2 separate regions of the Homo sapiens genome follow, and region 1 is linked to region 2. Evidence: fine-mapped expression QTL. Tissue or cell type: whole blood. Region 2 holds a variant in brackets; the other region holds the start of a gene. All regions are shown on one strand. Distances are from middle to middle.

Region 1 (2,500 bases), 62 kb after region 2:
TAACAGTGCTAAACCATGACTTTCTAAACCATGACCAACGAAAAAATTTTTAAAAAGAACTTTATTACACGAAGATTCCTAGAACTAAAAGCGTCATTGCCTGACCTAAAGAATTTCAGGTAAGTGAGGTTCACCTCCTGATTTTAACCAAAGGCTTCGGTTTCCATCTGAATGCCAGCCGGCTTAAGAGGAGGCTGCTGCTTTAAAGGAGCGATATAAACGAAAAAGTTCTCAGGTCACAAACTTAGCTCAGATTCCAGCCCCGACAGATCTTGAGCCCATGTGGCATCGCTTTCAGAGCTTCCCAGTCTGTGAGTCAAGCCCCCGCCTCCTCCCCTCCCCGGGACTGCCTCGGGGATGAGGTTTACTAACAATTTCTCCGAGTGCCGGCGGAGCCCAGGAGCGCTGGAATCCAGCGTCTGGGAGAGGCTTGGGGAGCTCTTCCTCGGCTTCTGCAGCCGCAAAGTAGGGTTGCCAGCGCCAGGATCTGCACACAAGCCGCCGCCACCTCCCCTGCCCCCAAATGGCTGGGGTACGGAGGGAAAGGAGGACGCGAGGGTGTGCCACCCAACCCCGCAGAGTGAAGCCGAGGCCCCAAGGACCGTCGAGGAAATCGCGGCTGGGCCGGCCAGATCCGACGCACGGAATGCGATCTCCAGGTTCTCATCGTGTTCCCGGCTCGGTGCTCGGCGTTCAAGGGGGTGGGGAGGATCGAAAAGCTGCCCCTCGAGGCTGCTCCGCCGCCGGGGAAGCCCGTGGCTCAGGCTTCACGCGTCAGGCGCTCTCTCGGAGTCCAGCCGAGCCGGGCCCGGGCGCGCAACCCGCGGCGCTCCGCTCTCAGCCGGGGACGTGGCTCTCCGTCTCCCGCCCGCGCCGGGACAGCCCCGAAGGCTACCCGCCCGAAACTCCCGAAGAAAGTTGCGCCGCGCGCCCCAGCTCGTCCCTTGCGCGCCCCTCCACTTACCGCTCCCAGCCGAGGCTTCGTTCTCTCCGGCGTCGCCTCCGCAGCCTCCAGAGCCAGCTCCCGGTCCTCCTCACTCCAGGGCGCCCGGGCTCCCGGCCCCCTCCGAACCGAGCCCTCCGCGCCCCCGCCGCGCCATGCCCCGGGATGCGCTGCTGCAGCCTCGGGCGACGCTACTGAGAGCCGGGCCGGCGGGGGCGGGTAGGTGTGGGCGAAAGGGGCGGAGGGAGGGACGCGGCGGGCGCTGAGGCTCCGCTGGAGGGGGGAGGAAACCGCAACGTCACCAGAGCCAGAGGAGACGAGGATGAGGAGAGGGAAACGGGGACCCCCTCCCCCGGCCGAACCCCGACCGCAGGCCCGCCCCGCTTTCTCCCGCTCCTCCTCTCCCGGGACTCGCCGCTCGCAGCTGTGCTCGGCCTTCCACGCCACCCGGCCCGGACTCCACCCGCACCCCCGCCCGCCAGGCCTCTTTGGCTCTAACTTGTTCTAGTTTCTTAGGACTCAAACGCTTCGGGTTCGAGAATCACACCCAAAGGAAAGGTAACTTTTGGAGGCCCAGGGGGAGGAGCTGATGCTTCCATACTACTCTGCGAGAGGAAAGCGAGGAAGACGTTAAGACTCTTACTACCGGGACTGGTGCCCACTCCAGTCTGCCTCCTCCCGAATAGTTACTGCCTCTTTTCTCTCGAATTCGGTTTTACTCTCTTCTCAAAGAGAAGTTAGTGGGAGGGGGGACTTTGGGGCGGGGGTCACCTATAGAGAAGCAGTTCTCTTTTTTACTGTACCAACAAAATACACTAAATCCAAGCGCACCGAACCCTGCAAACGGAACAGATTTTAATCACAGAAGGTCAGGAGCAAAGCATTTAATGTAGGCAGCTCACAAACAGAAATTTATCTTACGCGGTGGGGGGGTGTGTGTGTGTGAGAGAGAGAGATCCCTCATGCACCCAAGTTCAGGTGGAGCATTTGCAACCTTGGTAGTCACAGCCTCCTGGAGAAGAGTCCTCCTGTTTTCCAAAAATCAGCCACTGCTCAAACACGCTCAGCCAGGTCCAACCAGGCCCCAAGGAGATGTGAGGTAGGATCAGGGCCATCACCTCAGGAATACTTTGCCCCTTCCACCTCCACCCAGTGTGTGCAAGTAACCTACCAGACCTAGATTGTACAGAAGTGAAAGATTTGTAGGATACTTACCCATTCATTAGAATGAGAGATATTTTACTGGGAGCAGTGCTTTTCTCCATGAGTTCTGAAGGGCACCTCCATCCAATTCCTCTATCCTCAGAGGTTCTCACTTCTATTTGGCCAAATAAGGAAAAAATGTGGATGTCTCAGTTTATGCTTCTCTTTTTCAGAAATTGCATTTAAGAGGAACTCCTTACAAACAGGTCAAGAGGAAGTGGTACTATTAAATTTTTTAAATGTTCACTCAGGTGAACCACTAATTTGCATAAACTTCTTGATGCTTTAGGGAAGGCCTGTCGAGGAGAGAAGAGGGCTCTGGAAACTGGAACTAATCTTTGGTTCAAATCCAAA
Region 2 (2,500 bases):
AAAGAAATGTTTCTAACACTACCTATTAGGTACTATGCTCACTACCTGGGTATACTGCACATGTACCCCTGTATCTAAAAGTTGAAATTTTTTTTTAAAAAAGAAAAGTTTCTAAGAGTTTCAAAAACAGTGATATGAGTTGAATTGAAACTTCATATACTCAGGTGGCATGGAGAAAAGATTTAAAAAGTGTTTTAGTTTTTCTTTTTAAATGCAAAAAAACAAGTGCATAGCATGAATAGTACCCTTGGGTACCATTTCTCTTTAAAGCTAGCCCAATGTGTCATACCAGAGAAATTCTGTGTGCAGAGTGCACCAGCGCTGCCCTTTGGATGGTGTTCCTGGACCTTCCACCACACGGTTCCTTCTGATTTGGTCAGCTAGCCAGTTACCACTGCCATTACGCATGACAAATTTATCAAGGAACACTAATTGGCTTTCTGGACCATAAAACCAGTTGTAATTTGAGTCCGCAATAGCCACAGTCCTTTGAAACCCTAGGGAAATAAGTTGGAAAGAATTAAGATACTTTGAAAACTTCACACTCCTATATAGGTCTAAACAATGACTTTTCAAATCTAGTTGCAAATTAGAATTGTGTAATGGAAGGGATAAAATAAAAGAAAAATCACAATCCTCACATTTTATTCCAGACCAGTTAGTCAGAATCCCTCAAAAGGTCTTCCACATATGTTGTGTGCAAGCTTGTATTTATTATGTGGTAACCTGTCCTTGGTAACATTAGTGCTACACCTATTCCCTGCCTTCCTCATTTTCCAATGTTCATGCTATACGTGATTATATTTGCATATATACATGGGACATCCTCTTGTGCAGTTTGGGTTTCTGAACCTGGAATGAACACTAGCTCTCCCACAACTCAACATGCATTCTAGGCCAAGATAATAAAATAACATGCTTCAGTTTGGCTTCAATAAAGTGTAAGTTATACTATATACGAAGTTCAGGGGAGAGACTGAGTTTCTACAGGAAGAAAATTTAATTCC[C/T]GGAGTAGCTCCTGCCAGTATGTACTGCTGGAAGTTAAACGACAGAAAATGCAAGGATCATAAAGCCATATATCATTTTTGGAATAGGGAAGAAAAATAAAAGCAGGTAAGACTGGATATGCTCCACGTGTTCATGAAAAAAGAAGCAGCAAGATAGAAAACTCAGCCAGACAAAAAAATTGCTACTAGAGTATCAACTGTAGAAAAAAAAAAAAAGAGAGAAATGAAGTTGAAAACAGATTGCTTTAACATAGAACCTCTTCTAAAATGTTACCACAATTATATTTATGTAATTTACAGCTAATGTTTTTGTTCCTAATAATTTAGTAAATGATCTTGTAAGTATACCTTATTTTAAAATGATATTTTCTGAATCTTCTACTAGTCTGTGAATTCCTTGAAAGCAGGAGATGTGTTTTATTCCTCTTTGAATCCTCTGCCTACTACAGTGCCTGGCACACAGATGTTCAATAAAAGTTTGTTTAATTAACACAAACATATAAATGCTGCTCTTAGACATGTTCATACTGTCTTTTCCACTTTAGGAAGTAGCCACAGACACAGCTCACAGCAAACACAATTCCTGATGTAGTTAGCCTTTAGATCTCAGCTTAAATTACAAAGCACTGAAACCTCTTAAAGGTCCCTTGCTTCAGGTAGCCTTTGTTTACTAGGATGAATTGCAAAACAGGCCTCTCCTGCATGTCTAAGAAAAAGCAACAAAGCAGTATTTTTTTGAATGTAAGTCTAAACTAAATCTTAAAATGGTTCTTATGCTCTGCAATATTTTTGAATTAGTCCAATAATGGAGATTCTATTAATCTGTATGTATACTACCAGAGCCAAAAGATTTAAATACTATATTATTTGTTGTAGGTCTAGAATCACCATCTAAAAATTGCATTTCCTTGGGGAAGGGGGGGAATCTATCCTGATAAAATTTTCCTTTATAACTTGTTCTAACATCTTAGTCCTGTTTTAGAAATAAAAAAAGGTTACAAAGTTCTCTGGAAATGAATACATTATTAAATCATGTATATATTTTTTTTAGAGCTAGTTCTCTTAGAAGGCTAAATGACACAGCAATAAAGAAATTACAAGTTTTACAGCACTTTTTTTGTTTACTTTTCTATACTATTTACTTCAATAAAATATTACAATACTAAAGCTCCAACTTAAATGTGTAGGTGTAATCTTTCATTTTGAATCATGTCTGTATAGTTTGAAAGAAAAAACTGAAAACCAAAAATTAAAATAGGATTGATCAGGGATCACATATAAAGGAAAACTGACAGGTAATCACAAATGTTTATATTTTGCTTGCAATGATGAAGATGAGTTCGTATATTACTCAAGTTTGGATATATAAAAAAAAAGTATTGAGGGGCCTAGAAATTGTATTTAATCCATAACCCTCCAAACTTTATAATACCTAAATCATAAATACTCACATTAGCCTCCAAAATGTTCTGGCTATATGCAACTCTTGAATT

Evidence for each region. PIP is the estimated chance that this variant, and not a neighbour inherited with it, causes the effect.
Region 1: DSE starts here. The variant in region 2 is fine-mapped to the expression of DSE in whole blood (INTERVAL, PIP above 0.99).

The regions. Positions count from the first base shown.
Region 1 is chr6:116,369,586-116,372,085 of GRCh38, reverse strand. DSE (dermatan sulfate epimerase) reads right to left here and starts at 1,139. Exons shown (of 6, transcript NM_013352.4): 1 at 965-1,139. LOC100287467 (a long non-coding RNA gene) reads left to right here and starts at 367. Exons shown (of 1, transcript NR_148944.1): 1 at 367-2,500. RefSeq lists enhancers at 268-768, 2,283-2,332 and silencers at 766-1,060, 823-1,352.
Region 2 is chr6:116,431,340-116,433,839 of GRCh38, reverse strand. It overlaps DSE (dermatan sulfate epimerase), which reads right to left. Exons shown (of 6, transcript NM_013352.4): 5 at 290-497. Among named protein-coding and RNA genes, the nearest start is that of CALHM6, 29 kb to the left of the region's middle. The variant C/T (reference allele first, on the strand shown) is at 1,008.